Linked DNA regions of Homo sapiens: regions 2, 3 and 4 are each linked to region 1. The links come from fine-mapping of genetic effects on gene expression. A gene starts in region 1. Each other region holds a variant in brackets. All regions are shown on one strand. Distances are between the middles of the regions.

What was found.
Region 2: its variant is fine-mapped to the expression of PLXNB2 in whole blood (TOPMed, PIP above 0.99).
Region 3: its variant is fine-mapped to the expression of PLXNB2 in whole blood (INTERVAL, PIP above 0.99).
Region 4: its variant is fine-mapped to the expression of PLXNB2 in whole blood (TOPMed, PIP above 0.99).

The regions. Positions count from the first base shown.
Region 1 is chr22:50,303,693-50,311,791 of GRCh38, reverse strand. It overlaps PLXNB2 (plexin B2), which reads left to right and starts at 4,146. Exons shown (of 37, transcript NM_012401.4): 1 at 4,146-4,239. It overlaps DENND6B (DENN domain containing 6B), which reads left to right. Exons shown (of 20, transcript NM_001001794.4): 20 at 1-2,762. RefSeq lists silencers at 3,075-3,124, 3,825-3,874, 4,035-4,234, 4,245-4,314, 4,835-4,985 and enhancers at 5,534-5,903, 5,293-6,492.
Region 2 is chr22:50,345,861-50,353,959 of GRCh38, reverse strand. The region is part of intron 1 of PPP6R2 (protein phosphatase 6 regulatory subunit 2); the gene reads right to left. Among named protein-coding and RNA genes, the nearest start is that of PPP6R2, 6.6 kb to the right of the region's middle. The variant G/A (reference allele first, on the strand shown) is at 3,333.
Region 3 is chr22:50,271,448-50,279,546 of GRCh38, reverse strand. PLXNB2 (plexin B2) reads left to right here. Exons shown (of 37, transcript NM_012401.4): 28 at 536-692; 29 at 851-951; 30 at 1,028-1,112; 31 at 1,276-1,430; 32 at 1,534-1,694; 33 at 1,809-1,956; 34 at 2,641-2,705; 35 at 2,843-2,918; 36 at 3,584-3,658; 37 at 3,739-4,568. The coding sequence ends at 3,843. Among named protein-coding and RNA genes, the nearest start is that of MAPK11, 5.1 kb to the right of the region's middle. RefSeq lists silencers at 3,173-3,242, 7,478-7,827 and enhancers at 6,790-7,330, 7,331-7,870. The variant A/G (reference allele first, on the strand shown) is at 3,687.
Region 4 is chr22:50,328,507-50,336,605 of GRCh38, reverse strand. It overlaps a transcript of PPP6R2 not described here. Among named protein-coding and RNA genes, the nearest start is that of DENND6B, 5.5 kb to the right of the region's middle. RefSeq lists an enhancer at 2,385-2,514 and a silencer at 4,123-4,312. The variant G/A (reference allele first, on the strand shown) is at 4,097.

The DNA of each region.
Region 1 (8,099 bases):
ACCCCCCTGCGCTGTGTGTGATGCTTCCCTCAGCCCAACAGGCTGCCCAGGACAGGAGGGACCCTCTCCTGACACAGCCCCCGTCTTGTCTGGGGATGGGAGGCTATTTTGCATATAGTCATCAACTTGAGAAAGGGAGAGACCACTTTGCAGTGTGAAGAGCTCTGCTCACCACCCCTGGTGCTCCTCTGGACACCCACCTGCTTGGGGCTGTGGTTTGTTGGGAGGTAGGGGTTGGGCAGGGGGCTGTGTGCAGCCCAGCACCTCTGCTAGGAGAGCTGGCTCAGCCTGGCTCTCGGAGAGCCACAGCACCTTCCTGGCTCCCAGTCCTGGAGCCCCCACCAGGCACCAGCTCCGTGCGTCCCTTCTGGGAGGTGGACAGGGCTCCTGTTGTCCAAGTGTGTCCGTCCATCCCCCACATGCAGCCCAAGGGGCTCTGGACTTCGGCCTGACCCTGCCTCTGGCTGGAGCCTGCATGTCTCCCTTTCCTTGGTAAGGGGTGAACGTCCCTAAGAGCCACCTCTGGGTTGTATGCTCCCCCCGTGACACCTGCAGGCACTGAGGCCGGTGAGGTACGGTGTTGACCCTGCACAGCACACAGTGACGGTACTGTCAGGGCTCCGGACAGCCAAGCCCTGCTCAGCATCACGCACTGTGTGCCCGGGAGCAGGTCCCCTGACCACTCAGACCCTCAGACTCCTCATCTGAGCGAGCCAGCCATGCAGATGCCCGACAGGGTGCTGGGAGGGCCACTCATGGAGACTGGGCTTTGTACCCTGTGAGGCCGGGCGGGTGCTGGCCAGGGGACACAGGGCTGGGGGAGGGACTTTTTCTTTTTTTTTCTTTTTGAAATGGAGTCTCGCTCTGTTGCCCAGGCTGGAGTGCAGTGGCATGATCTCGGCTCACTGCAAGCTCTGCCTCCCGGGTTCACGCCATTCTCCTGCCTCAGCCTCCCGAGTAGCTGGGACTACAGGCACCCACCACTGCGCTTGGTTAATTTTTTGTATTTGTAGTAGAGACAGGGTTTCACCATGTTAGCCAGGATGGTCTCGATCTCCTGACCTCGTAATCCGCCCGCCTCGGCCTCCCAACGTGCTAGGATTACAGGCATGAGCCACCGCGCCCGGCCGGGACTTTTCTTTTTCTTCTGAGGCCCCCATTCAGTCCGAGGAATGTAGCCTTCATTCAGCGCAACGTACTGTTTGTGTTCTCATTGGTGCTCTCAGACCTCCAGCCAGGTGGTGGAGAGCGAGCACTGCCAGCCACTTCAGTGCAGGATGTGACTGAGCCACAAGGACAGCGGGGTCAGGTGTCCGGGCGCCAGGTAGTTCTCAGAACTTGGTACATGTCAACTTGTCCAGCCCAACTGCAGCCCAGGACAGCCTGTCCCTGTTCCCATTCTACAGACAAGACGCGGAGGCAGCCGGGAGGGTGACCAAGGGGAGCTGTTAAGCCCCAGATGTCTGGTGCAGGGTCCAAGGATGTGACCACATGAAACAGAACACATAGAGGCCGAGGTGGCAAACCTGTTCTGTGGCAGGGACAAGCCGGGGACCCGAGGGTGAGAAAGGTCCTGGCCCCAAATGCAGCTTGGGCCTCCTGACTGTAGCACAGGGGGACCAGCCTCCCCACTGAGGGCTTGGTCTCTAGAGGGTCTGCAGAGATGCTGGCACCTCTTGTGTGGGCAGCTTGAATGCTGACCTCCATAAGATGGGGCCTGGGGGGCCAGTACAGGCCCTGCCATCAGCTGCCCTCCACCAGGGCCCTCTGCAAAAGCCTTATGCTGGTGACCAGCCCCCTGAGGACCACCACTTCAAGGTGTCGGGGCAGCTTGGGAAGACAACCCACCTCTCTCACAACTGTGACCCCACTTTGGGGAGCGCACCCCAAGGACCGTGGCAGCATGTGCTTCCCCACAGCACAGTCTCGCCTCACTTGGCTTTCTGAGGGCTGCCGCACAGCACAGAGGGCTGCAGACCCACATGGCTGCAGGGGAGGGGCTTCAGGCTGGTCTCTGAGGAGCCCCCAGGGACCCTGGCCACTGTGTATCCAGAAATGCACAAGCAGATTTCCCTGGAGGGCTCTGGTGAGGCCACATAGTGGCGTGTGAAGGGGGAACTTGAGGGGGGAACCGGGCTGGGTGGCCAGCATTGCCCTGGGCAGAAGCTAAGGCTAAGGTGGGGGGTAGTGTCCCAGCCCCTCTTCCTCAGGGCCTGTCCCCACCTGTGCAGAAGAGGCCTGGGGTGGAATGTGGCCTGGGGTGGATGGGTGGGGGCTGGGCGTGGAGACCTGCCAGCTCCATCTGTCCGGATGCCTCTTGTGGCCCCCCCAGTGTCAGGGCCGCTCTGAGTTGGCTGAGCCTCTGTCCAGGGCTAGGCCATGGCCCTCCCCGCCCCACGCACTCCAGGCCAGGGGCAGTCAGTGAAGAGGCAGGAAGGTCCAGACAGCTCTACCCCTGGCCAGAGTGCCAGCCCCCGCAGGCAAGAGGGCTTGCTGGGCAGAACTTAGTTGGCGAGGGTGAGGACTGCTGTGGTCACAGGCCTCCCGAAGGACAGGGACCACAGAACCTAGAGGGTGGGAAGGGCTGGGAGCAGGTCTGGAGTGGGGCTCGGGGCTGAGGGTGCACACAGGGGGCCTGCTCAGGGACAGGAAGGACAGCTGCTCACCCTCAAGCTTCCTGCTGGCTATTTAAAGACTCCCTTTTAGTCTAGAACAGTGGCCTTCCCACAGTTTTGGTATTAAAATGTCCTTTTGTGACTGGACCTTGTCTTTTCCTTTTTTGATAAAAAGTTGGCAACCTTGTCAGAACCTGGTAATTTTGGGGTCCTCTGCAGTGAAGGGTAGGGTTGCCGTGATGTGGATTGTGGTTCAAGGCCCAAGGGAAGATTTTGGACAGGAACAAGGCCTGGCTGCTTGAGGGTGGGAGAAGGCAGAGACTGAAAGAACTAAGTCAGGCTGGGGGAGTTTGTCAGGATGTGGCGGGGCGGATCCCGGGTGGGGGAAGCAGAGGAGGAGGGGATGCCTGGCTGGGGACAGGAGGAAGCTGACCAGCTGCAAGGACGGGGCAGGTCTGGGTGGAAGGCGGGCCCCAGGGAGGGGTGACCCAGGGTGGGGGCAAGAGCTTGGGGAATGCTTCTGTCTCCTGCTCAGCACATCCAGTTCCGGGAGGGCAGTGGAGGCGTGCTCCAAGGTCTGGCCCTGCAGACGGTTCACCACCTCTTCTCAAGCCCAGGGGACACTAGGAGCACTGAGGCCAGGACTTGGGACCTGGGATGCCAGAAGTGGGGCCAGCTCTGTCCCAGAAACCAGAACCCCCAGAAAGAGGTCTCGGCCCGCCCACCTCCTGGCCCTGAAGGACCAGGTGGGGTCCCGGGTGCAGCATCCCAAGGTGCTGCTGGAGGCCAGGGATGTGCTGGGAGGCCATCTCCAGGTCCCAGTTTACCCTGGGAGGTTGAGGGCCTGAGACCCCTGGGAAAGGGCCAAAGCCCAGCAGCCCCCACCCCTGAAGGCCGCAGGGGAGCGACTGGTATGCTTCCAGTCTGGGAGTGAGAGTCTGGTGCCCACACATCTCAAGACTGGCAGGGACCCTCACGTTCCTCTGGCCAGGCGAGAGTGCACTCATAATGCCCTCCCCTGGTACCAAGCCATGGCCTCCCCTCAGACCTGCGGGGTTCCTGTGGGGGTGCTCAGGCCATGGGGCCTCTGTGGGCGCTCGTGCTTCCTGGACGGCGGCATGGTGGGCAGGGTGCTGCCCTGGCTGAACCTGGGTCTGAACTGGGGTGCCTGAACCTACCAGACAATGCTGTGGCCGCTGGGCAGGGGAGAAGTGGGGGGCGCGGGGAGCGCAGGCCCAGCCCCTCCCCTCCCGTCCCCTCCCCTCCTCTCCGGTTCTCTTCTGCCCTCTCCTCCCCGCTCCTGCTCCCCCTCCCCTCCCCCTCCCCCTCTTCCCCCTCCCCCTCTCCCCCTCCCCCTCTTCCCCCTCCCCCTCTCCCCCCTCCCCCTCTCCCCCCTCCCCCTCCCCCTCCTTCTCCCCCTCCGCTTTCCCTCTCCCTCTCCCCCCTTCTCCTGTTCTCCCCGCCCTCCCCTCCTCTCCCTCGTCGGGGGCGGGGCCGGCAGCTCCCGCGCGCTCCGGCCCCTCCTCGGCCACACAAAGGCCCCGTCTCCATGGCAGCAGCGCGGGCCAGAGCGCAGCGCCGAGCGCGGCCCGGGCGCCATCGAGCCTTGGCGGCGGACGTGCAGGTACCGAGCTCGGGGGACTGGGCTGCGGGGGACGTCTCGCTGGGCGTGGGGGGGGCTTCGCCGTCAGCGCCGCTCCGCCCGGGCCTGCCGCGCTGGGGCCCGGGGACCTGCGGCGGCTGCGGCTCCGCGGAGGGCTCCCGGGGCCTGGGCCCCGTCCGTCGGTCCATCCGGCGAGGCCCGGGCCGCTGCCGCCCCACTCCCTTCCCGGTGTTGACTCGGGGGACGGGCCCGGCGGCGGGGGCTGCGCGTCCCTCCGGAGCCGCGTCGGATCCCTCCTCCGCGCCTGCCTCTCACTCTTCAGCCGCCGAGCTCCGTGCGCCGAGCGGAGATGGTCTCGCGGTGCGGGCGCTCCGGGCCGGCCCCAGGCTCAGCGGCACAGGAGCCTGGATTTGCCCGAGCTCCCGGGGGCCGTCCCCGCACCCCCTGGGGCCTGCTTGGCGCGGGGGGACCAGGGCGGAGAGCACCCGCACCTGGCGAGACCCCACTGCCTGGGCCTCCTCGCGGTTCCCAGAGTGGCGTCTGGGTGGACACCCCGAGACACAGAAAGTCTCAGAAGCGGGGGCGCGAGCCCTGCCTGTCCCCTGCTGACCCTGCCCCTCCGCACCCTGCTCCTGCAGGAAGCCCCTGCCCTGCCAGCGCCCCTGGTCGGGCTATTCGGCAGATCTGGGGAGCCCGCCTCCCCCTGTCATCTGGGGGTCTCAGAGCCCGGACGCCCTGGGGCTTCCTGCCAGGCCCTTGATTTCTCTTCCCGAAGCTCCCTGGGAAAGGAAGAAAGGGGTCCGTCTGCCCACTGTGGGCTGTGGCAGAGTCAGGACAGGGGGTGAGGGTGAGGGTGAGGGTGAGGGTGAGGGTGAGGGTGAGGGTGAGGGTGGGCCCCAAACCCGGCAGATCCCGGCGGCCTGGAGGGCTCCCTGTGCCCCACCTTCCCTGGACCCCCCCGCCCTCCCCACTTAATGTCTGACTTCGGCCCTTGCTTGGAGGTTCGGCGCAGCCTGTGAGGCTTTAAAGTTGAGCTTCCTCAGGAGCCCTTTGCGGGTGGGAGAGCGAGGCTGCCGGGAAGTGGGGGCTCTCAGCCTGCCCCATGCCCAGATGACCCTGGCACGGAACAGCTGAACAGCTGGTGGGAGGAGCCCTCCCTTTCCTGTCCAGAGGTGAGGGTCTCCCGGAGGGCAGGGCCAGCAGGCATAGGTTTGTGGCGAGTCAGCTTTTTGCATGTTGCATAGAAATCCCCAGAGCCGACTGAGAAGCAAGCAGGTGGGCCTGGCACATCTGAGTCCTCCCACGGTACCTATGGGGGGCCCACCTCTGTCCCGGGGGGTCTGGGAGGCCTGAGGTCTGGCCAGGGGTTCCTTGCCCCAGTAGAGGAGGGAAGTTACTGAGAAAAACAAGGGTTTGGAATGTGAGTCCCCCTCCCCCACCGGCTGCCTGCCAAGAAAGAATTATTTTGGATCATCCAGCCGTGTCCAGTCACCCGAAGCGGGAGGCTGCAGCGTGGGAGAAGGATCCACTTCCGGGACGTGGGTTGAGGGCCCCAGGAGGAGGACGGGCAAGTCCGGGCAGCTCTGCCACTTTCTACTGCAGCTGCCCAGACTGGGCGGGGAGAAGATGCGTCACCTTTGGGTTGGAGAAAGCCCCAAGGTTGGCCCCAGCAGGCCCTGCTGAGCCTGCAGTGGGCCCAAGCCCCTCTGGGGGAGACCATGGAACAGGAGGAGCTCTGGGCCCACCCAGGGACCCCCTCGCCCCACCCAGGGACCCCCTCGCCCCGAGAAGTCTCAATGGTGGTCTGAAGAGCCTCTGAGGTACCCTCCAGGCCCAAGTTCAGGGACACACCCTGTGCCAGTGACCTGTGCGTGCCAGGGAGGAGCAGGCAGGAGCGAGGCTAGGCTGCTAGGGAGGGCACTGGGGTTTCCCTCAGGGGGCCCTCCTGCCCCAACGGACTCCCTATTCAGCTCCTGACTAACGGACCAGCCTCCCTCCAAGCCCCTCCGACAGCCAGTCCTTGCCTACGACCCCCTCTGGATATGGCGCCTGTGAGCCCATCCTGCAGGTGGGGAGACTGAGGCCAGAGATAGGTCTATGTGAGGAGTCATCTGCGATGCTGTGTGGCCAGGGCTGTGGCTACCTGGCGCTCTGGGTCCATGCTGTGTGTGCGCCCGGGGTGTGTGCCCGGCGGCCTGCATGGGGACCACATCGGGGAGGAGGAGCCGGCAGCTGGCCCCAAGTGCAGAAAGCCCAGAGCCTTGGACCCGGCCCAGGGAAGTGGAGCAGAAGAGATTGGATTGGAAGGTGGTGGGGAGGGCCCATATGGCACAGTCCTCCTCCCATCCCAGGACGTCGTCCGTGCTCACCGTGTCCTGCCCCCTGCCTCACCCTGTGCCAGCCACAGCTGATGGTCCCCCTGGGACGCGGGCGTGGGCAGGGGTGCACTGGCTGGGAGAGGCTGTGTCTTCCGGCCCCTCATATTGTGCCTTCTCTGAGCTAGGCAGGCACTTGGATGCCAGGCCTCTGCCACGAGGGCTGCCTTCCCCTGAGCTGGGAGTTCTCACTCAGCTCATGCCTCCGTCCCTCTGGCTGCAGCCTGGCCGCCCTCCTTGGAAGTTGGCGGGGAACCTCTTGTGCCCAGAGCCTGCCTTGGACACGGTTTGGGGATGAGGTGGTGAGCTGCTCAGAATTCACCCAGTGGCCAGCAAGTGGCCCCCCAGCCTTGACCTCCCTTCTCTGAGGCAGATCCAGGTTCTCTGGGGGTGGGAGATTCAGTAGGGCTGGGACTGGCCACAGCCCCTCCCTCCCTCAGGGGTAGTGGCTGTTTGTGTTTGGGGTGGGGCTGTGGGTGGGGTGGGGCTGGGTCTCTGACTAATTACACGATGGGGAGGGTGGGTCAGAGCCTTGGCTGGTGGGGGGTGCTCAGGCTCTGGGGCCCCGGGGAGGCAGCTGCCCTAGCTTCCCTCTTTCTGGTCGAGGTTCCTCCACCTTCTTCCTTTCCGTGGTTTCACATCCCTTGACACAGGGCCTGCTTCTTCCCATACCCCTGGATTGTAAGGACCCCTGCCTTTCTCTGCCTACCAGGGAAGGACCCTGCACTGTTCTGGGCTCCCCCAGCCACAGGTGTGGCCTCAAGCCAGGCCCTGACACAGTGGCCCTCCTGGCTCAGAAGCCTTCTCTCTGAAGACCAAGCGTGTGAAGGGATTGGCTGGGCCCCTCCCGTCTGGCCCTGAACACTGGCACCCCGCACCCCCCCAGTGGATCCACCCTGCCCTGTGAGATTCATGAACCTGTGACAGTGACTGGCCCCAGGCCCAGTGGTGCCGGGGATGGTGGGACAGGCTGCCCCTGGTGGTACTGCAGGTTTGCCCCACCCCCGGGGATGTCTGTCTGGGGAGGAGCCTGGGGCTGGCCTGGCTGTGGAGCTGGGGGTTCTGTTTCGCACAGTCCCGCCTCTGCAGCCCAGATCCTGGAGCCCTTCACACCCAGAGGCCAGCCCACACCGTGGCCCGCTATGGTTGGTGGCCTTCCCTGGGGGTAGCCCCTAAGGCCACACCTGAGCTGCCTCATGTCCCAGGCTAGGTGAGGGAGGAGACTGCCCTGGGCTGGGATCAGGGCGCCTGGGGGCAGGTCCAGCTCTCTTCCTCAGCCCCCTAAGGTCTCCTGGCTTCTGAAAGCCAATAGTTCCTCATTCCAGTGCCAGCTGAGTCCCGGCCCAGGCCTGGGGCAGGAGAGGGAGGTGCTGCCCCAGTTCAGCCACCAGCTCTGCCAGCAGGGTCCCAGCAGCAGCAGCATCAGAGGCAGGGACTGGGCTCCTGGGGGTAGGGCCCCGGCCCCTCTGGCACAGCTGGTCAGCAGCTTCCATGGGGGGCCCTGTG
Region 2 (8,099 bases), 42 kb before region 1:
TACATAATCAGTTATCGTTACAATTCCAAAATGTATTCTTTTAATTTTCTTTGTTCTTCCTCTATTCTTCTAGGGAATCTATTAAAATTTTTTAAAAATATTTTTAAAAGTTAGCCTTTCCCTTAACAAAAAAAAAAAAAAAGGGAGAGGCTTTTGAGTCACACTACCTGGGGTACAAATCTTGCCTCTATCATCTACTTGCTGTTTATTTCCATTTCCTCATCTGTGAAATGGAAAACAACACAGGCGTACTTTGTCTAACGTGCTTCCCTTCATTGTGCTTCGCAGGTAATGTGCTTTCTACAAATTAAAGGCTGGTAGCAACCTTGCGTCAAGCACGTCGAGGGGTGCCATTTTTCCAACAGCATGTGCTTACTTCGTGTCTCTGTGTTGCATTCTGGTAATTCTCACAATATTTCAAACTCTTTCATTATTATTTTATCTGTTATGGTGACCTGTTATCGGTGATGTTTGATGTTACTATTTTAATTGTTTTGGGAAACTACAAACCGTGCCCATATAGGATAGCAAACTTAATAAACGCTGCGTAAGTTCTGACCGGCCATTTCCCTGAGTCTCTCCCCCTCTCCTCAGGGCTCCCTACTCCCTGAGACACAACAGTAATAACGTAATAACGTTAGGTCAATTAATCCTGTAGGAAAGGAAGAGTCACATGTCTCTCATTTCGATCAAAAGCTAGAAATGCTTAAGCTTAGTGAAGAAGGCATGTCAAAAGCCGACAGGCCAAAAGCTAGCCCTCCTGCACCAGTTTGCCAAGTTGTGAATGCCAAAGAAAGGTTCTTGAGGGAAATTAAAACTGCTACTCCAGTGAAGACATAAATAATAATAAAGCAAAGCAGCTTTATTGCTGACACGGAGAAGGCTGCTTTCTGTTTGGAGGCAGGTCTTACTCTGTTGCCCAGGCTGGAATGTAGTGGCACCATCACAGCTCACTGCAGCTCTGACGTCCCAGATTCAAGCCATCCTCCTACCTCAGCCTCCCCAGTAGCTGGGACTATAGGCATGCACCACCACATTCAGCTAAACTTTTATTTTGTAGCGATGAGGTTTCACTGTATTACTCAGGTTGGTCTCAAACTCCCGAGCTCAAGCGATCCTCCCCACTCAGCCTCCCAAAGTGCTGGGATTAGAGGTGTGCGCAACCGTGCCTAGCCTGCAGAAAGTTACGTTGTTGTTGTTTTGTGTGTTTTTTTTTTTTGTTTTTGTTTTTGTTTTGAGACAGAGTCTCGCTCTGTCACCAGGCTGGAGTGCAGTGGCGTGATCTTGGCTCACTGCAACTTCCACCTCCTTGGTTCAAGCAATTCTTGTGCTTCAGCCTCCCGAGTAGCTGGGACTACAGGCACGCACCACCATACCCAGCAAATTTTTGTATTTTTAGTAGAGATGGGGTTTCACCATGTTGGCCAGGATGGTCTCCTCCTGACCTCGTGATCCACCTGCCTCAGCCTCACAAAGTGCTGGGATTACAGGGGTCAGACACCGCACCCAATGCCTGCAGAAAGTTTTAATGGTTTGGAGAGAAGACGAAACCAGACTTAAATAGTCTACAGTAAGGCCCTCACTCTTTTCAGTTCTACAAAGGATGACAGAGATGACGAAGCTGCAGAAGAAAAACTGGAAGCTAGCGGAGGTTGTTTCATGAGGTTTAAGAAGCCACCTCCATAACATACTAAAGTGCAAGGTGAAACAGCAAATGCCGGCCGGGCGCGATGGCTCTTGCCTGTAATCCCAGCACTTTGGGAGGCCGAGGCGGAAGGATCACTTGAGGTCAGGAGTTCAAGACCAGCCTGGCCAACATGGTGAAACCCCGTCTCTACTAAAAAATACAAAAATTAGCTGGGTGTGGCCGGGTGCGGTGGCTCACGCCTGTAATCCCAGCACTTTGGGAGGCCGAGGCAGGCGGATCATGAGGTCAGGAGATGGAGACCATCCTGGCTAACACGATGAAACCCCGTCTCTACTAAAAAATACAAAAAAATTAGCTGGGCATGGTGGTGTGCACCTGTAGTCCCAGCTGCTGGGGAGGCTGAGGCAGGAGAATGGCATGAACCTGGGAGGCAGAGCTTGCAGTGAGCCGAGATCGCGCCACTGCACTCCAGACTGGGTGACAGAGCAAGACTCCGTTTCAAAAAAAAAAATTAGCTGGGTATGGCGGCGGCTACCTGTAATCCCAGCTACTCAAGAGGCTGAGGCAGGAGAATCACTTGAACACGGGAACCAGAGGTTGCGGTGAGCTGAGATGGCACCACTGCACTCCAGCCTGGGTGACAGAGGGAGACTCCATTTCAAAACAAAAAACAAAAAACAAAAACAAAACAGCAAATGCTGATATAGAAGTTGTCGCTAGATCTGGAAGATCCAGCTAGGACAATTGATGAAGGAGGCTATGGCAAACAACAGATTTTTCAATACAGATGAAACAGTCTTCTATTGGAAGAAGGTGCCATCTAGGATTTTCATAGCTAGACAGGGTAAGTCAACGCCTGGCTTCAAAGCTTGAGTGCACAGGCTGACTCGCTAATGCAGCTGGTGACTTTTAAATTGAATGCTCATTTATCATTCTGAAAATCCTAGGACCCTTAAGAATTATGCTAAATCAGGCCGAGCGCGGTGGCTCACTCCTGTAATCCCAGCACTTTGGGAGGCCAAGGCGGGCGGATCACTTGAGGTCAGGAGTTTGAGACCAGCCTGGCCAACATGGTGAAACACCATCTCTACTAAAAATACAAAATTAGCTGGGCGCAATGGCACATGCCTGTAATCCCAGCCACTAGGGAGGCTGAGGCAGGAGAATCACTTGAACCTGGGAGGCTTAGGTTGCGGTGAGCCAAGATTGCGCCATTGCACTCCAGCCTGGGCAACAAGAGTGAAACTCTGTCTCAAAAAAAAAAAAAAAAAAAAAAAAAAAAAAACACTGTTGAGACCTACTGCTCAGAAAAAAAAGATTCCTTTCAAAATATTACTGCTCATTGACCATGCATCTAGTCACCCAAGAGCTCTGATTAAGATGTACAAGGAGACTAATGTTGTCATGCCTGCTAACATACTCCATACTGCAGCCCATGGATCAAGGAGTAATTTTTTTTTTTTTTTTGAGACGGAGTCTTGCTCTGTCGCCCAGGCTGGAGTGCAGTGGGGCAATCTCGGCTCACTGCAAGTTGCGCCTCCTGGGTTCATGCCATTCTCTTGCCTCAGCCTCCCAAGTAGCTGAGACTACAGGCGCCCACCACCACACCCGGCTAATTTTTTGAATTTTTAGTAGAGACGGGGTTTCACCGTGTTAGCCAGGATGGTCTCGATCTCCTGACCTC[G/A]TGATCTGCCTGTCTCGGCCTCCCAAAGTGCTGGGATTACAGGCGTGAGCCACCGCGCCCAGCCTAATTTTCTTATTATTTCAGAAATACATTTCAGGCCGGTCGCAGTGGTTCATGCCTGTAATCCCAGCAACTTTGGGAGGCCAAGGCAGGCAGATCACCTGAAGTCAGGAGTTCGAGACCAGCCTGGCCAACATGGTGAAATCCCATCTTTATAGAAAATGCAAAAATTAGCCAGGCATGGTGGTGGGCGCCTGTAATCCCCGCTACTCAGGAGGCTGAGGCAGGAGAATCGCTTGAACTCGGGAGGCAGAGGTTGCAGTGAGCCAAGATTGCACCACTGCACTCCAGCCAGGGCAACAAGAGGGAAACTTCGTCTCAAAAAATAAGTAACAGAACTAGAAGTAGAGCCTGAAGATGTGACTGAATTGCTGCAATCTCAGGATAAAACAGATAAGGAGCTGCTTTTAATGAATGAGCAAATAAAATGGTTTCTTTTTTTTTCTTTTTGAGACAGAGTCTTGCTCTGTTGCCTAGGCTGGAGTGCAGTGGCACAATCTTGGCTCAGTGCAACCTCCACCACCTGGGTTCAAGGCATTCTCCTGCCTCAGGCTCCCGAATAGCTGGGATTACAAGCATGCACCACCACGCCTGGCTAATTTTTGTATTTTTAGTAGAGACGGAGTTTCACCATGTTGTTCAGGCTGGTCTCGAACTCCTGACCTCAGGTGATCCACCCGCCTCGGCCTCCCAAACTGATTACAGGCGTGGGCCACCACACCCAGCTGCTTTTTTCTGTTTTTTTTTTTTTTAAGATGGAGTTTCACTCTTGTTGCCCAGAATGGAATGCAATGTTGTGATCTTGGCTCACTGCAACCTCCGCTTCCCGGGTTCAAGCAATTCTCCTGCCTCAGCTGGGATTACAGGCGCATGCCACCACGCCTGGCTAATTTTTTGTATTTTTAGTAAAGACGGGGTTTCACCATGTTGGCCAGGCTGGTCTCGAATTCCTGACCTCAGGTGATCCACCTGCCTCAGCCTCCCAAACTGCTGGGATTACAGGCATGAGCCACTATGCCTGGCCACATTCTGCTTTTGTGGGTGTGCTTTTATTTATTTTTGGCAGAGATGGGGCCTCACTATGTTGCTCAGGCTGGTCTAGAACTCCTGGCCTCAAGTGATCCTCCCGCCTCAGCCTCCCAAAGTGCTGGGATTATAGGCACGAGTCACCACGTCCAGCCCGTTTTTTTTTTTTTTTTTTTTTGAGACAGGGTCTCACGCTGTCGCCCAGGCTGGAGTGCAATGGAGTGATCACAGCTCACTGCAGCCTTGACCTCCCCAGGCTCAGGTGATCCTGCCACCTCAGTGTCCGAGCAGCTGGGACTATAGGCGCACACCACCATGCCCAACTTTTTTTTTTTTTTTTTTTTTTGAGAGGAAGTCTCACTCTTGTCGCCCAGGCTAGAGTGCAATGGCACAATCTCGGCACACTGCAACCTCCACCTCCCAGGTTCAAGCGATTCTCCTGCCCCAGCCTCCTGAGTAGCTGGGATTACAGGCGCCCACCACCATGCCTGGCTAGTTTTTTTTGTATTTTCAGTAGAGATGGAGTTTCACTATGTTGGCCAAGCTGGTCTCGAACTCCTGACCTCAGGTGATCCGCCCGCCTCAGCATCCCAAAGTGCTGGGATTACAGGCGTGAGCCACTGCGCCCGGCCCTGCTTTTTGTTTTTGTAGAGATAGGGTTTTGTCATGTCCCCAGGCTGCCCTGGCCTTAAGTGATGCTCCCACCTCAGCCTCCCAAAGTGCTGGGATTACAGGCGTGAACCACCGCACCCAGCCCATGTGCTTTTAAATAAATAGCCATCCCCAAGGCTTTATACCTTGCCCCCATGATGACAGTTGTATACCTGCGGCTTGGCCTCTCCTCTGGGTTCCAGACCCTCCTGTAAGATACCTTCTCCCTAGTGACCCTCGGACTTCTCAGACTTCCCCTACTTTCAGCCAAGAGAAAGCCTTGCTTTCTACTTCCAAACTGTAGTAACACCCCCAGCCCTGACACCACCCTAATTCAGCTTCCCTATTTCAATAAACAGTGCTACTATCCACCCATTTGTTCCATCAGAAAGCCTAGAAGGGTTGATGGGGCTGGGAGGATAAAAGCAGCCCAGAAATTACCCTGAGTCCATTCATTCTCTCACACCTCTCTTCTCATCTACCAACAAGTCCCAACAGCTCTACCTCCAAAATATCTCCCTAAACCCACCACCAAGTTCTAAACCATTACAATCACTACACCCAGCTCCCAACACTTCATCTCACCCCCACCTGCTGTCCACGTGCCAATGTCCATATGATCATGGCACTCTCCAACTCAATCTCCAGGCCAGGTTTCTCCTACAACTCAGACTGAAGGTCCAACTCCCTACTAACACCTGCAAGGAACGGCTTAATGAGAAAACCAACTTTCCAGCCCAGGCTCCTGCCTCTCTCTCCCTTACCATAAGCACATCAGTCTTATCTAGGTTCCTGGAGGATATCACACCCAAAATTTCCCACTTCAGGGCCTTTGCATGTGCTGTCCTCTCAGCATGGGAGACTCTGTCCCCCAATTTGTCTCAAAGCTAGCTGCCTCTCACATTCCAAAGATTAACTGAAGTGAGTTAGAAAAGTCAAAGGGGAGAGATATATACACCTATTGTGTACCCACAACATTTTAAAGTAAAAAATAAAAACAAAGGGAAGATAAACCAGAAAAAGGGACATCAAAAAGAGGTGAAGAGCCTCTTTCAGTGAACAGTGAACAGTGTCGGCAACTGCAGGGGCAAGGAGAAGCCAAGAGCAGGGCAGAGAGAGGCCATGAGGGAAGGGTGGATGAAAGAACAAGACACAGGAGAAGGGTCTAGAACAAAATCAGTGGGTACAGTGACAAAGAGGGGGCTGCAGTGAAAGGCAGGGACTAAATGGAAGTGACAGACTTGGGGGAGCTGGTGCTGACAGGTCAGGGAATGAGCAGCAAATTGGGAGGAGTCAGTAACAAGAGAGTGGACAAAGCAGGTAGGGAAGCTGCGAGTACACAGAGTGGCAGGTCGGGGGACAGTACGGTGCATGGGGGAAGGTGACAGGCTGAAGGAAGAGATGATGGGGATGGAAGCAACAGGGCAGTGCGGGGTAAGGTGAGGTTAGATGACTGGTGATATCTCAAGCCGTGATGGGGAGCGCGACAGGAAAAGACGAGTAGTGTTGGAAAGGGTTAGGAAATAATGGAAAGGGGAATCAGTGATTGGACAAGAGGGGTGATGACAGCGGGCACTGAAAGTTCTCCCACTGACAGGCAGGAGAGAAGCAGTGGGGAGACACTGACAGGTGGGGTCACTAACAGCAGGGCAGGGTACTAATGGGTCCCTAACAGATAAGGGATGAAGGAGGTAGCATGAAAGGGGACAGGAACTGACAACAGGGGAGAACTGATGGGGAGGATCTGACAGGCACTAACACAGAGGCCGATAGCAAAGAGCGGAAGGGCCACAACAGGCAGGATGAGGGAGACACTTATGAGGGAAACTTACTGACAGTGGGGCTCACTGACAGAGGCACTGGCACTGATGGGGGGCACTGACAGAGAAGATCAATGACAGGTGGGGACATTGCTGACAGAAGGGGTCACAGAGCGCTTGGACTGACAAGGAAGGGCACTGGCAGGGGAGGGATTATGCGGTCAGTGACTGACGGGTACGGGTGGGGGTGCAGGCACTGATGGGAAGTGGGGACATGACAGAAAGAAAATAATTGACTGGGGGGGCACTGGCTGACGGGGGACAGGGATGCGGGACTCTGACTGGGGGACACTGATGGGGAGCAGAGTGGACTGACGGTGGGGGAGCACTGACCAACAGTGGAGGCACTGACCAGTGCGCGGACTGACAGATGCGGAGGCACTGACCGACAGGAGGAGCATGACTTGCAAGGGGCACTGACTGACGGTGGGGGGCACTGATGGGTGGGGTGGGGACTGATGGGTGAGGTGCAATGACTAGCTAGCAGGGGACACTGACTGGTGCAGGAAGCACTGACTGGTGTAGGGTGGGGGAACAGAAGGAGGGCACTGACTGGGGGGGCACTGACTGACTGGGAGGGAACTGACTGGAGGGGGCCCTGACTTGGGAGGAAACTGACTTGGGGGGCACTTACTGGAGGGGAACTGACTGGAGTGGGCACTGACTGGGGGCACTGATTTGGGGGGCACTGACTGGAGGGGGCACTGACGGGGGAACTGATTGCGGGGGGAACTGACTGGGGGGGCACTGACTGAGGGGAACTGACTGGGGGACACTGAAGGGGGCACTGACTGGGGGGAACTGACTAGGGGATGCACTGACTGGGGAGAACTTACTGGAGGGGCACTGACTGGAGGGGACAGTGACTGACTTGGGGGGGGCACTGACTGGGGGGCACTGACTGACTGGGGGAACTGACTGGAGGGGGAACTGACTGACTTGGGGGGCACTGACTGGGGGGCAACTGACTGGGGGAACTGACTGGAGGGGGCACTGACTGGGTGGGTCACTGACTGGAGGGTTCACTGACTGGGGGGAACTGACTAGAGGATGCACTGACTGGGGGGAACTGACTGGAGGGGGGCACTGACTGGGGGGGAACTGACTGGAGGGGGCACTGACTGGGTGGGTCACTGACTGGAGGGTTCACTGACTGGGGGGAACTGACTAGAGGATGCACTGACTGGGGGGAACTGACTGGAGGGGGGCA
Region 3 (8,099 bases), 32 kb after region 1:
CACAGGCCAGAGGCCGTCCACCTCCTCTGTGGATTCGAGTTACAGCCTGCTCTAACTCGGCCTCAGGGAGGGGCCTGGGTGCTGGTGGCTGTGGGCTCTGGAGGCTCTAAGTGTGCGGGCCCCGCATCAGCTCTTCCCGGGCGCCCCCACCTCCTGGAGGCCATACAAGGGCCTGGCACACCAGGTGTGTCCAGGGTTCTGTGCATACATGACCAGTGGGTGTGGCAGGAGCCTGTGCATGTGTGAGACGTGTGTATTCTGTGTCTGTACATGTGCTTCCATGAGCTTGCGTGACAGCCTGAGTGAGCGGTTCTGAGCCGTCCCCGTCTTTCTGTCCTGCTGAGCCGGAGCAGGCAGGGGAAGGGCAGAGTGTGGTCATCTGGGAAGCCTCGGGGGCTCGGAGCCGGGCTGGCGGGGGCCTGCTGCCCAAGGGTGCCGCTGTGGTGGGCAAAGCTGGCGGGGCAGGGAGTGGCTCCTGCATGGTGCAGGTAAGAGCAGGGCCTCCCACTGGGCTTCATCCCGGATGTCTCGGCAGACGGTGAGCGTGATCGTGCAGGACGAGGGAGTGGACGCCATCCCGGTGAAGGTCCTCAACTGTGACACCATCTCCCAGGTCAAGGAGAAGATCATTGACCAGGTGTACCGTGGGCAGCCCTGCTCCTGCTGGCCCAGGCCAGACAGCGTGGTCCTGGGTGAGTGCCGGCCCCTGCCCGTCTGCACACAGGCGCCCATGTGCCTGGCCTGTGTCCTGGGGCGGTATCCTGCCTGGCCAGCTTTCTCATATGGGAGTGGTGGGCAGTGGGAGGAACCTGGGTGGCTGGGGCCCAAGCTGGGCTGTCTCTTCCCACAGAGTGGCGTCCGGGCTCCACAGCGCAGATCCTGTCGGACCTGGACCTGACGTCACAGCGGGAGGGCCGGTGGAAGCGCGTCAACACCCTTATGCACTACAATGTGAGCGTGTAGGCCGGGGCGGGCGAGAACTGGGCACCCTGGGGGCACAGCCCACCCTCACCGCCGTGTTCCCCAGGTCCGGGATGGAGCCACCCTCATCCTGTCCAAGGTGGGGGTCTCCCAGCAGCCGGAGGACAGCCAGCAGGACCTGCCTGGGGAGCGTGAGTCCCTCCCTGTTGCCCGTTTCCTTCCAGCCCCTGGTGGTCAGCGTGGACCATGTCTGCCCTGGACACATGCACCCCTGCCCACCCTGCCACCACTGCTCCCTGTGGGACCCAGGCCCCCAGACCTGGGTAGGGGTCCCTCAGTGCCCGCTCCCCACAGGCCATGCCCTCCTGGAGGAGGAGAACCGGGTGTGGCACCTGGTGCGGCCGACCGACGAGGTGGACGAGGGCAAGTCCAAGAGAGGCAGCGTGAAAGAGAAGGAGCGGACGAAGGCCATCACCGAGATCTACCTGACGCGGCTGCTCTCAGTCAAGGTGGGCCCCCATGGGTGTGTGGGCGGCACCAGGCCGCCACGCTGAGACCCTCCCCCCCAGGAGCCGCGCCCACGGCGTCACGCTGAGACCCTCCCCCCCACAGGGCACACTGCAGCAGTTTGTGGACAACTTCTTCCAGAGCGTGCTGGCGCCTGGGCACGCGGTGCCACCTGCAGTCAAGTACTTCTTCGACTTCCTGGACGAGCAGGCAGAGAAGCACAACATCCAGGATGAAGACACCATCCACATCTGGAAGACGAACAGGTGAGGCTCCACACCCACCCCGCGGCCCAGCCCCGGCTCCGCCTCTCACTTGGGAGGCTCCACACCCACCCCGCGGCCCAGCCCCGGCTCTCATTCCCTGCTGCTCTGCCTCAGCTTACCGCTCCGGTTCTGGGTGAACATCCTCAAGAACCCCCACTTCATCTTTGACGTGCATGTCCACGAGGTGGTGGACGCCTCGCTGTCAGTCATCGCGCAGACCTTCATGGATGCCTGCACGCGCACGGAGCATAAGCTGAGCCGCGTGAGTGGGGTGGGGGCAGGTCTGGGGCAGGGAGGCCTGGGTCTGTCCCCAGGAGGCATCTTGTGAGTTGGGACCTTGTCTGGGGTGTGGATTTGAATATCTTGGGCTGGAGCCCTTGATGTAGGAGGTGACGGGTGGCGGAGGCTGGGGGCACAGGGGCCCGGCAGAGCCTGGGAGATCCCGAGAGCCCTTGCCCTCTCTCCTCCTGAGACCTCTCACCACAGCACACGAGCAGAGAAACTGAGTTTTACTACAGATCACAAAATAAGTAGTTTTCTTTTTTTTTTTTTGAGATGGAGTCTCTCTCTGTCGCCCAGGCTGGAGTGCAGTGGCGCGATCTCTGCTCACTGCAACCTCCGCCTTCTAGGTTCAAGCGATTTTCCCGCCGCTGCCTCCTGAGTAGCTGGGACTACAGGCATGTGCCACAACGCACGGCTAGTATTTTTAGTAGAGACGGGGTTTCACCATGTTGGGCAGGCTGGTCTCGAACCCCTGACCTCAGGTGATCTGCCTGCCTCAGCCTCCCAAAGTGCTAGGATTACAGGCCTGAGCCACTGCGCCCGGCCCATAGTTTTCTTGATGAAAGTGTCAGGAGTTCGGGGCAGGGGAAGCTACCCAGGGGTACTCTGAGCAGCCCCAGCCTGGCCCCCTTGGCCAGGCATCACTGGGTTTTGTCCCCAACAGGATTCTCCCAGCAACAAGCTGCTGTACGCCAAGGAGATCTCCACCTACAAGAAGATGGTGGAGGAGTAAGTCTGCCTGCCCTCCAGGCCAGGCCCCCATGCCCACCCTCGACCCCCTGCGGGGAGGTTCAGGCCTTGGTTTCCCCCACCACCCCCTTTGTGGTCCCTGCCGCCCACACTGTATGATGCTCCCACCCCTGCAGTTACTACAAGGGGATCCGGCAGATGGTGCAGGTCAGCGACCAGGACATGAACACACACCTGGCAGAGATTTCCCGGGTAAGGAGACCACCAGGGACGCACCCACAGCCCTCCCCGCTCCCACTACCCCATGCTGAGCCTGGCCCTGAGCTGCAGGGCAGGGGTAATGTGGTGCTGAGGGGGAGAGAGGGTGGGGCGGGACCTCGAGGTGGGCTCGGCCATGTGAAGTGAGCCACAGCTGCGTGTGGGGAGTATGAGCTGCTCCTGCTTGGAGCCAGGCCCTGCCCACAGCGCCCCCTCCCTGCGGCTGCACCCACGGCCGTGCCCACAGCGCCCCCTCCCTGCGGCTGCACCCTCGGCCGTGCCCACAGCGCCCCCTCCCTGCGGCTCCATCCACGGCCGTGTCCACAGCGCCCCCTCCCTGCGGCTGCACCCACGGCCGTGCCCACAGCGCCCCCTCCCTGCGGCTCCACCCACAGCCCTGCTCACAGCACCCGTCCCTGTGGGTCCATCCACAGCCGTGCGTCACACAGGGAGACACTGAGATGGTTGGATGTGCACAACTCTGCCTGCGTGGGTGTCTGTCTGAGGCTGTGCCACATGGGGGGCCCCAAGTGCCAGCTGTGCCCAAGGCCCCAGCTGCTTCCCCGGGGAGGCCTCGTCCTGGGCGTCCCGTACTACTCCTGCCAGCCCTGGGGCTCCCACAGCCCCTTTTCCACCCTGACTGTCCCGTCACCCCCCAGGCGCACACGGACTCCTTGAACACCCTCGTGGCACTCCACCAGCTCTACCAATACACGCAGAAGTACTATGACGAGGTAGGGTCAGGCCCCCGGGGGCGGGGGC[A/G]GGTGGGGTGCTGGGCGGTCCCCCGGTGTGCTCTGATGCGACCCTCCCTCAGATCATCAATGCCTTGGAGGAGGATCCTGCCGCCCAGAAGATGCAGCTGGCCTTCCGCCTGCAGCAGATTGCCGCTGCACTGGAGAACAAGGTCACTGACCTCTGACCTACAATCTCCAGTGCTGCCTTGGGACATAGGTACCTGAGGTACCTGAGAGCCCCTCAGGGGAGGAGGCCGAGTGGCTGTGGCTGAGGCCCCCACCCTCCCCTGGAACGCGCCCCAAGCCGGAGTGGGTGCAGCCGGAACCCGCCCAGCGTCTAGACTGTAGCATCTTCCTCTGAGCAATACCGCCGGGCACCGCACCAGCACCAGCCCCAGCCCCAGCTCCCTCCGGCCGCAGAACCAGCATCGGGTGTTCACTGTCGAGTCTCCAGTGATTTGAAAATGTGCCTTACGCTGCCACGCTGGGGGCAGCTGGCCTCCGCCTCCGCCCACGCACCAGCAGCCGCCTCCATGCCCTAGGTTGGGCCCCTGGGGGATCTGAGGGCCTGTGGCCCCCAGGGCAAGTTCCCAGATCCTATGTCTGTCTGTCCACCACGAGATGGGAGGAGGAGAAAAAGCGGTACGATGCCTTCCTGACCTCACCGGCCTCCCCAAGGGTGCCGGCACTCTGGGTGGACTCACGGCTGCTGGGCCCCACGTCAAAGGTCAAGTGAGACGTAGGTCAAGTCCTACGTCGGGGCCCAGACATCCTGGGGTCCTGGTCTGTCAGACAGGCTGCCCTAGAGCCCCACCCAGTCCGGGGGGACTGGGAGCAGTTCCAAGACCACCCCACCCCTTTTTGTAAATCTTGTTCATTGTAAATCAAATACAGCGTCTTTTTCACTCTGCGGGTTGGCTGAGTGTTCCTCCTGGGGCTGCAGTGCCCCTGTCCACCACCCCTTCCCTGGGCTCTGTGGGTCCTGCTGGGAGGGGAGCTGTGGGGAGGTGGAGGGGGCTGGGAGGGGTGCTGGGGGAGGTGGAAGGGGCTGGGAGGGGTACTGGGGGAGGTGGAGGGGGCTGGGAGGGGTGCTGGGGGGAGGTGGAGGGGGCTGGGAGGGGTGCTGGGGGGAAGTGGAGGGGGCTGGGAGGGGTGCTGGGGGAGGTGGAAGGGGCTGGGAGGGGTACTGGGGGAGGTGGAGGGGGCTGGGAGGGGTGCTGGGGGGAGGTGGAGGGGGCTGGGAGAGGTGCTGAGGGGAGGTGGGGGGGGTGGGAGGTGGGACTGCTTCTGGTGCCATCTGGTGGCTTCTTTCGTGCAACACATTCTTACCAAATGCCCGCTGCACACCACGCATGCACTGTCCTGAGCGCTAGGAACAGCAGCAACCAGGACGGGCAGGGCTCAGAGCCTCCCCTGTGTGCCAAGAATACAGACAGCCCAGGCAGAGGGCATTCGGTGCTCCAGACACAAAGTGAAGGCCCAGCTTCAAATGTGGCTGGATCCAGGCACACATCCTGAGGTTCTGCTGGTCTGGACTGCTAACCCACTCACGAGGATCCATTCTCAGGCAGCCCCAGCCTGTCTCCCCACCTGGGCACGTCATGGCTGGGGTCTCTTGATGGGCAAGGCCTCCATTGATCGAGTCCCCTTTGGACTGGGGCAGCTCTGTAGGGACCAGCCCCACAGGGTCAGTGGGTCTCTCCGTGTGCGGCGACGAGAGAGTGTAGAAATAAAGACAGAAGACAAAGAGATAAGAGAAAAGGCAGCTGGGCCCAGGAGACCACTACTACCAATGCATGGAGACCGGTAGTGGCCCCGAATGTCGGGCTGCGCTGTTATTTATTGGATACAAGGCAGAAGGGGCAGGGTAAAGAATGTGAGTCATCTCCAATGATAGGTAAGGTCACGTGGGTCATGTGTCCACTGGACAGGAGTCCCTTCCCTGCCTGGCAGCCGAGGCAGAGAGAGAGAGGAGACAGAGAGAAAGACAGCTTACGCCATTATTTCTGCATATCAGGGACTATTAGTATTGTCACTAATTTACTACTGCTATCTAGAAGGCAGAGCCAGGTGTACAGGATGGAACATGAAAGTGGACTAGGAGTGTGACCGCTGAAGCACAGCATCACAGGGAGACGTTTAGGCCTCTGGATAACTGCGGGCAAGCCTGACTGATGTCAGGCCCTCCACAAGAGGTGGAGGAGCAGAGTCTTCTCTAAACTCCCCTGGGGAAAGGGAGACCCCCCCCCCTCTTTCCCGGTCTGCTAAGTAGTGGGTGTTGTTCCTTGACACCTTTTGCTACGGCTGGACCACGGCCCGCCTGGTAACGGGCGTCTTCCCAGACGCTGGCGTCACCGCTAGACCAAGGAACCCTCTGGTGGCCCTGTCCGGGCATAACAGAAGGCTCCCACTCTTGTCTTCTGGTCACACCTCACTATGTCCCCTCAGCTCCTATCTCTGTATGGCCTGGTTTTTCCTAGGCTATGATTATTGAGCAAGGATTATTATAATATTGGAATAAAAAGTAATTGCTACAAACTAATGATTAATGATATTCATATATAATCATATCTAAGATCTATATCTGGTATAACTATTCTTGTTTTATATTTTATTATACTGCAACAGCTCGTGTCCTCTCTCTTGCCTCGGTGCCTGGGTGGCTTGCCGCCCACACAGCTCCATTCAAGCCACGATGAAAAACGGGTGGCCATCTCTCCCCCACAAGAGAAAGGGGTACAAGGCCAACTGACATCCCCTGCTCCAAGGATCCCTGAAATGACATTGGGTTCCCCCCTTACCCAGAGACATGGCTGGTCAGGAGATCAGAGCAAGGGGGTGGACCGAAGGCTTAAGTGCTGAGCGGGAGGTCTCAAGTAGGGAGCTGGGAACCTGGAGGCCTGGCTTCCGTACTAGACCCCTGCAGTCCACCTCTTCCCTGTCCCACTGGGCAGTCAGGAAAGAAGGGAAGGGTCAGTGAGACCCCACACACATGAAACTTGGGGCTGGGGAGAGGCTGCAGGCCCAGCAGTCCAGCATCTGGGTGGGGGCAGGCACCGGGTAGAAGCTGGGCATAGCTGCTGGGGTGCATGCGGTGGGCTGGAGTGGTCAGCTGGCGACAGACGAGGGGTGGCCTGTCCTTCCTGGTGCTTTCCAAGTCCCATTTTCCTCCCAGAGTGGTGGGAGGAGAGGTGGCGGGTAGCTTAACAGCCCAAGGCTACATCCTGCTTGCTTCTTACAGGCAGGACAAGTCCCCTGCTAAATCAGCTCCGCGACCACCATCGCCTGGTCTCCCGGTGAGCAAGGCCAGATTTGCCTTTTAGGAAGTTCACTGACTGCAGGAAGAGGCCAGCTGGGAGGGACCAGCAGGACCAGAGAGGAGCTGTCACAGTGACAGCTCCAGTGAGGAGGGGTGGCCAGGACCAGCGGGGGTGGGGTGGGGGCATGAGCACGGAGAAGGGGTGGCCTGCTGTATTCAGGGGCCACAGCGAATCAGCTGGGTAGGAGAGGCGCCTCTGGCCCAGGGCTTCTCACTCCTGCCCTGCCACCGGCCCTTCCTGGCTCCCCTGCCGCTTCCCCTCTGGGCCTGGGACTGTCCTCCACCGGCGGCTCCCTCCAGGGGGGCTTCCCTTGCCCCCGCCGAGCTCTGAAGGTGCCTCTCCTGGAAGATGGCCTCCAGGCCCTGACGCCACCCGAAACTCCTCAGTGATCACTCCCTTGCAGTGCCACGACCCCACACTGTCCCCAGTAGGCACATGGGCGGGACCTCTAATGCCTGGGCAGGCAGGGGGTTCCCGGGGCAGGTCAGCTCAGTGATGAGAGGGGCCCGTTTCCACCGCCCCCCGCCCCCACCCCCACCCCACACGCCCGCCTGACCTGCTGAGCGGCCGGGGCCTGCAGCGAGGCCGCGAGGATTGCGGGCGGACGCCTGGGGGAAGCCTGACACCTCCCCACCTCCATGTCCCCCACCCTAGGGGCGAGAACGGAGCCGCCCAGTCCACGGGGAGGCGCAGGGGCGGGGCCGGTCGCCATGGGAACCCGACTCCCGCCCCGCCCGGCCGCGGCGCAGACAAAGGCCGCTCCCCTCCCCCGGCGGCCGCGGCCGCGGTTCCCACAGCTCCGGGGCTGCGCTCCGGCCTCCTCCTCCTTTAGCTGAAGCTCCATTAACTCTGCACAAAACCTCGGCCCGCCTCGGCCGGGCCCAGTGAAAGGCGCTCCCGGGCGGGGGCCCTCGGGGAGGCTGCCCGTGTCCTCGCCCCAACCCAGCCCGAGCGAGGAGAGGGGCCATCCCCGGGCCCGCGCCAGGCCCCCAGCCGGATGCCGGCTTCCAATGGGGAAACTGAGGCACGGGGCTTGGTCATGCAAAAGGGGCCGGAGCGGCTGGGACTGAGACCCGTTCCTTCGCCGCGGTCCGCATGGGTCCGGTGGCCAGCACCGTGCT
Region 4 (8,099 bases), 25 kb before region 1:
CCAGGACAATACGGTGAGACCCAGTCTCTAAAAAAAAATTTTTCTCTACTAAAAACACAAAAATTAGCTGGGCATGGTGATGCACGACTGTAGTCCCAGCTACTTGGGAGGCTGAGGCAGGAGAATCACTTGAACCCGCGAGTGGAGGGTGCAGTGAGCTGAGATCGCGCCTTCGCACTCCAGCCTGGGCAACAAGAGCGAAACTCCATCTCAAAATAAAATAAAATAAAATAATGACCCTGCTGATAAAAGTTGGAGAAGACCTAAATAAGTTGACAGACATGTCATATTTTTGGTTAAAATTGGTTTAAAAATTCAGGCTGGACGCGGTGACTCACACCTGTAATCCCAGCACTTTGGGAAGCCGAGGTGGGTGGATCATGAGGTCAGGAGATCGAGACCATCCTGGCTAACATGGTGAAACCGCGTCTCTACTAAAAATACAAAAACAAAATTAGCCGGGCATGGTGGCAGGCGTCTGTAATCCCAGCTACTCAGGAGGCTGAGGTGGGAGAATGGCGTGAACCCAGGAGGCAGAGCTTGCAGTGAACCAAGATTGTGTCACTGCACTCCAGCCTGGACGATAGAGCAAGACTCTGTCTCAAAAAGAAAAAAAACATTCAACATTGTGGCTGGGTGCAGTGGCTCACGCCTGTAATCTCAGCACTTTGGGAGGCCAAGGCAGGCGGATCACGAGGTCAGGAGCTCGAGACCAGCCCGGCCCACATGGTGAAACCTCATCTCTACTAAAAATACAAAAAAATTAGTCGGGCGTGGTGGCAGGTGCCTGTAGTCCCAGATACTGGGGAGGCTGAGGCAGGAGAACGGCGTGAACTCAGGAGGTGGAGTTTGCAGTGAGCCAAGATTGCGCCACTGCTCTCAAGCCTGGGTGACAGAGCGAGACTCCATCTCAAAAAAAAAAAAAAATTAGTTGGGTGTGGTGGTGCGCACCTGTAGTCTCACCTACTCGGGAGGCTGAGGCAGGAGAATCACCTGAACCCAGGAGGTGGAAGTTGCAGTGTGCCGAGATTGGACCACTGCACTCCAGCCTGGCGACAGAGTGAGACTTCGTCTCAAAAACAAAACAAAACAAAACAAAACAAAAAACAAGGGCCAGATGCGGTGGCTGTCACCTGTAATCCCAGCACTTTGGGAGGCCGAGGCGGGCAGATCACAAGGTCAGTTTGAGACCAGTCTGGCCAATATGGTGAAACCCCGTCACTACTAAAAATACAAAAATTATGGCTGGGCGCGGTGGCTCACACCTGTAATCCCAGCACTTTGGGAGGCCAAGGCAGGTGGATCACCAGGTGAGGAGATCAAAACCACCCTGGCTAACACGGTGAAAACCCATCTCTACTAAAAAAAAAAAAAAAAAAAAAAAAAATTAGCCGGGTGTTGTGGCGGGCACCTGTAGTCCCAGCTACTCAGGAGGCTGATGCAGCAGAATCGCTTGAACCTGGGAGGCGGAGGTTGTGGTGAGCCGAGATTGCGCCACTGCACTCCAGCCTGGGCGACAGAGCGAGACCCTGTCTCAAAAATAAAAACAACTCAACATTGTTAAGATAGCAATTCTCCCCCAAATTGATCTGTGGATCCAATGTAATCTCTGGCAAAATCTCAGCAGGTGTTTTTTATTTGTTTGTTTGTTTTTTGACACAGAGTCTCACTCTGTTGCCCAGGCTGGAGTGCAGTTGGTGCGATCTTGCCTCCTGGGTTCAAGCGATTCTCCTGCCTCAGTCTCCTAAGTAGCTGGGACTACAGGCACGCGACACCACACCCAGCTAATTTTTTGCATTTTTAGTAGAGACAGAGTTTCACCATGTTTGCCAGGCTGGTCTTGAACTCCTGAGCTCAAGTGAGCCACCCACCTTGGCCTCCCAAAGTGCTAGGATTATAGGCGTGAGCCACCGCACCTGGCTTCAGCAGGTGTTTTTGTTGGTGGTGGAAATTGACAAGCTAATACTGAAATCTGTATAGATATGCAAATGATCAAAATTGTGGGCGGCAAGCCACCCAGGTGCCAAGGCAAGAGACCAAAGAAACAAGCTGTTCCAGTATAATAAAGGAAACATATACGACGAGAAGCTATACTAGAAATAGATTATATATATGATTATATATGAATATTACTAATTATTAGCTTATAGCATTACTCTTTAATCCAATATTATAATAATCTTTGTTCTACAAGTATAACCTAGGAAAAACCAGGCCATACAGAGATAGGAGCTGAAGGGACACGGTGAGAAGTGACCAGAAGACAAGAGGGTGAGCCTCTGTCACGCCCGGACAGGGCCTCTAGAGGACTCCTTGGTCTAGCGGTAACGCCAGAGCCTGGGAAGGCACCTGTTACTCAGCGGACCAGGAAAAGGAGTTAGAGAAGACTCTGCTCCACCACCTCTTGTGGAAGGCCTGACATCAGTCAGGCCCGCCCGCAGCCATCCGGAGGCCTAAACGTCTCTGTGATGCTGTGCTTCAGCGGTCACGCTCCTAGTCCACTTTCATGTTCCGCCCTGTACACCTGGCTCCGCCTTCTAGATAGCAGTAGCAAAGTTAGTGAAAGTATTAAAGTATTTGATCTCTCCAAGAAATACATAAAAGAAATAATGACGTTACCTGTCCTCTCTCTCTCTCCACCTTGGCTACCAAATAGGGAAGGGCCCCCTGGCCCATGGACACGTGACTCGCGTGACCTTACCTATCATTGGAGACAACCCACACTCCTTACCCTGCCCTCTTGCCTTGTAAACAATAAATAACGGTGCTGCCAGGCATTCAGGGCCACTACCGGTCTCCATGTCTTGGTGGTAGTGGTCCCCAGGGCCCAGCTGTCTTTTCTTCTATCTCTTTGTCTTGCGTCTTTATTTCTACGATCTCTCGTCTCCACACACAAAAAGAAAAACCAACAGGCCCTGTAGGGCTGGACCCTACACAAAATAGTCAAAACAATTTTGAAAAAGAGCAAAGCTGGGGCCAGGCGCGGTGGCTCATGACTGTAATCCCAGCACTTTGGGAGGCCGAGGTGGGCGGATCACGAGGTCAGGAGATCGAGACCATCCTGGCTAACACGGTGAAACCTGTTTCTACTAAAAACAAAAATTAGCCGGGCGTGGTGGCAGGCGCCTGTAGTCCCAGGTACTCAGGAGGCTGAGGCAGGAGAATGGCGTGAACCCGGGAGGCGGAGCTTGCAGTGAGCCAAGATTGTGCCACTGCACTCTAGCCTGGGCGACAGAGCGAGACTCCGTCTCAAAAAAAAAAAAAAAGAAAAAGAACAAAGCTGGAGGACTTACACTACGTGATCTCAAAACTTACTACAAAGCTAGAATAATGAAGACAGGACAGAATTAGTATAAGGAAAAGCATATAGATCAAGGGAACAGAATAGAGAATTAAAAAAAACCCTCACAATTATCATCGATTGATTTTTTTAACAGAAGTGCTAAGTTTATTTATTTATTTATTTAGAGATGAGGTCTCACTCTGTTACCCAGGCTGGAGTGCACTGGTGCGATCACAGCTCACTACAGTCTCCACCTCCTGGGCTTAGGTGATCCTCCTGCTTCAGCCTCCCAAGTAGCTGAACCACCACACCTCGCTCCTAAGTCAATTTTATGGGAAAACAATATATTTTCAACAAATGGTATTGGAAAAACTGATTATCTATATAAAAAAAGAATTTAGGACTGGTTGTGGTGGCTCAGGCCTGTAATCCCAGCCCATGGGGAGGCAGAGGCGGGTGGATCACGACGTCAAGAGATCAAGACCATCCTGGCCAACATGGTGAAACCCCGTCTCTACTAAAAATACAAAAATTAGCTGGGCGTGGTGGTGCGTGCCTGTAGTACCCACTACTTGGGAGGCTAAGGCAGGAGAATCGCTTGAACCCAAGAGGTGGAGGCTGCAGTGAGCCAAGATCACGCCATTGCACTTCAGCCTGGTGACAGAGCGAGACTCCATCTCAAAAAAAAAAAAAAAAGGATTTAAACCTTATCTCCTTATCTCATACCATACACAAAAATTAATTCAAAGTGAATCACAGACCTAAATATAAGAGCTAAAAATCTTCTAGAAGAGGCTAGGCGCAGTGGCTCAC[G/A]CCTGTAATCCCAGCACTTTGGGAGGCTGAGACAGGCGGATCACGAGGTCAGGAGATCAAGACCATCCTGGCTAACACAGTGAAACCCCGCTTCTACTAAAAATACAAAAAATTAACCAGGTGTGGTGGTGGGCACCTGTACTCCCAGCTACTCAGGAGGCTGAGGCAGAAGAATGGGGGGGTGAACCTGGGAGGCGGAGCTTGCAGTGAGCCAAGATTGCACCACTGCACTCCAGTCTGGGCAACAGAGCAAGACTCCATCTCAAAAAAAAAAAAAATCTTCTAGAAGAAACATAAAAAGTATTATTTGACTTAGGACCTTAGGTTAAGACATTTCTTAGATATGACACCAAAACCATAATCCATGAAAGAAAATGGTACATTAGATTTCATCAGAATTATAATATTTGATCTTCAAAAGATGCCATTAAGAAACATAAAAGATACCTGGGTGTGGTGGCATGCACCTGTAATCCCAGCACTTTGGGAGGCTGAGGTAGGAAGATTGCTTGAGCCCAGGAGTTCAAGACCAGCCTGGGCAACATGGCAAAACCCTGTCTCTCCAAAATAAATAAAATAAAATAAAATAGGGCCGGATGCAATGGCTCACGCCTGTAATCCCAGCACTTTGAGAGGCCAAGGCGGGTGGATCACAAGGTCAGGAGTTCAAGACCAGCCTGGCCAATATGGTGAAACCCCGTCTCTACTAAAAATACAAAATTATCCAGGAATGGTAGCATGCATCTGTAATCCCAGCTACTCGGGAGGCTGAGGCAGGAGAATTGCTTGAACTCGGGAGGCAGAGGTTGCAGTGAGCTGAGATCACATAATTGCATTCCATCCAGTCTAGGTGACATAAGCGAGACTCTGTCTCAAAAAAAGAAGTTAAAAAAAATAGGCAAAAAAGCTGCATAAACATTTTTTTAAAGAAGCTAACACAAATGACTTAGGAGCACATAAGATGCTCAACACCATTAATCATCAGGGAAATGCCAAACTCGCCCACAAGAAAGTACCACTGCAGACCCCCTCGAACGGCTGGAACAATAATACTAAGCGTTGGGGAGGATGTGGAGAACTGGAACCTTTATACATTCCTAGTGGAAATGTAAAACTGTTCGGAAAAGTTTGATAATTTCTCCAACATTTGAATATAAACTTACCATACAGCCCAATACTTTCACTCCTACATATCTATGCCAAAAAAATGGAAACGTGTGTCCACACCGAGACTTGTACACAAATGTCACAGCAGCATGAGTCATAATAAGCAAACACTGGAAATAATCCAAATGTCCTTCAAATGGTAAATGGACACGAAAACATCATATAAAATACTATTCACGAAAGGAATGAACTACTGGTACATGCAACAACATGCATGACCTCAAAAACATAACGTGAGGCACAAGAAACCAGGCAGAATAAACTAGATCGTCCATGCAGTAGTTTCCGGTTGCTGCTGACACAGGTCCCCACACACGTCATGGCTTACAACCACACGCATTTATTACCTTACAGTCCTGGAGCTCACAAATCTGAGATGAGTCTTATGGGACGAAAATCCAGATGTTGGCTTCCTCTGGGAAGCTCCAGGGAAAATCTATGTCCTTGCCTTTTCCAGCTTGTCCTGCATCCCTTGGTTTAGTGTCTTCCTCCATCTTCAAAGCCAGCAACTGACCATCTTCCAGGTTCTTTTTCTCAGATCCCAGCACCACATTGACTTCTCTGACTCTAAGCCTCCTCTCTTTCTTTTTTTCTTTTTTCTTTTCTTTTTTTTTTTTTTTTTTTTTTGAGACGGAGTCTTGCTCTGTTGCCCAAGGCTGGAGTGCAGTGGCGCGATCTCGGCTCACTGCAAGCTCCGCCTCCTGGGCTCACGCCATTCTCCTGTCTCAGCCTCCAGAGTAGCTGGGATAAGGGTGCCTGCCACCACGCCCGGCTTTTTTTTTTTTTTTTTGGTATTTTTAGTAGAGACAGGGTTTCACTGTGTTAGCCAGGATGGTCTCAATCTCTCCTGACCTCATGATCCGCCCGCCTTGGCCTCCCAAAGTGCTGGGACTACAGGCATGAGCCACCGCGCCCGGCTCTCTCTCTGTTTTTTTTTCGTTTCTTTTCTTTTTTTTGAGACAGAGCCTCAGTATGTCGCCCAGGCTGGAGTGCAATGGCGCAACCTCAGCTCACTGCAACCTCTGCCTCCTGGGTTCAAGCGATTCTCGTACCTCAGCCTCCCGAGTAGCTGGGATTACAAGTGCCCGCTACCACGCCTGGCTAATTTCTGTATTTTTAGTAGAGACGGTGTTTCACTGTGTTAGCCAGGATGGTCTCGATCTCCTTATCTCATGATCTGCCCGCCTCGACCTCCCAAAGTGCTGGGATTACAGGCGTGAGCCACCATACCCGGCCAACTACTTTTAATTATGTACAAATTAAGGTGCAAGTTATTCAGAAAGTTTTAGAAAAAGGTCGTTAACTTTGGGGTGGTTATCATGGGAAGCGGCAGTAACTTGTGGGTGTTGCCATGGCAATGGTAAACAGAGATGGCACTGGTGGGCATGTCTCATGGAGCGGTGCTTTTGCCTCTTCCCAGTTTCAGCCAGCTTTTTTTTTTTTTTTTTTTTTTTGAGACAGAGTCTCCCTCTGTCGCCCAGGCTGGAGTGCAGTGGTGCGATCTCAGCTCATTGCAACCTCCGCCTCCTGGGTTCAAGTGATTCTCCTGCCTCAGCCTCCCGAGTAGCTGAGACTACAGGCACCAGCCACCACACCCGGCTAATTTTCTGTACTTTTAGTAGAGATGAGGTTTCACCGTGTTAGCCAGGATGGTCTCGATCTGCTGATCTGCTCGCCTTTTCGGCCTCCCAAAGTGTTAGGATTACAGGCGTGAGCCACCGCGCCCGGCCTTCAGCCAGTCTTTAATCTGGTCTGGAATAAAGTTCTGCCTCCTACCTCAAAATCAGAGTACATCTTACAATGATGGCATGCAATAACCACAGGGGAAAAAAATGCTCAAGACCATTAGTAATCAGGGAAATGCAAATCAAAACCACAAGAATACCCAGGCACGGTGGCACATGCCTGTAGTTACAGCTACTTGGGAGGCCAATGAAGGAGGATCCCTTGAGCCCAGGAGTTCCAGGCTGCAGTGAGCTATGATGACATCACTGAACTTCAGCCTGGGTGATAGGATGAGATCTCTTCTCTATAAAATAAACAAAATTTTAAAAATCACAAGATACCACTACCCACTCATTGGCTGGCTACAATGAAGACGCTTGGCAACACCAAATGTTGGGAAGGATGTGGAGCAAAGGAAACATAAACTGTTGGTAGGAATGTTTCCATTTTCTTTTTTTATCTTTTTTTGAGACAAAGTCTCGCTCTGTCACACAGGCTGGAGTGCAGTGGCTTGATCTCGGCTCACTGCAACCTCCACCTCCCAGGTTCAAGCGATCTCATGCCTTAGCCTCCTGAGTAGCTAGGATCACAGGTGACCGCCACCATGCCTGGCTAATTTTTGTATTTTTTAGTAGAGACAGGTTTTCACCATGTCGGCCAGGTTGGTCTCAAACTCCTGACCTCAGGTGATCCACTAGCCTCAGCCTCCCAAAGTGCTGGGATTACAGGCATGAGCCACCTCGCCTGGCCTGGTAGGAATGTTTTTAAATGTATGGCTGCTTTGGGGAAAGCTAAACATATACCCAGGTTATGCCTCAGCAATTTGGTTTCTATGCACGCCCAAGAGAAATGAAAATGAGCCCAGGCAGCACGAGACCCCATCTCCACAAAAACGAACAAAAAATAAAAATAAAAAAATAATGGGGTATGGCGGCGTGTGCCTGTAGCCTCAGCTACCTAGGAGACTGAGTGGCAGGATAGCTTGAGCCAGGAGATCGAGGCTGCAGTGAGCTGCAATGGGCCACTGCACTCCATCCTGGGAGAGAGTGAGACCTTTCCTCTAAAAATAAAAATAAAAGCTATACAGTCGGGCCTGGCATAGTGGCTCACG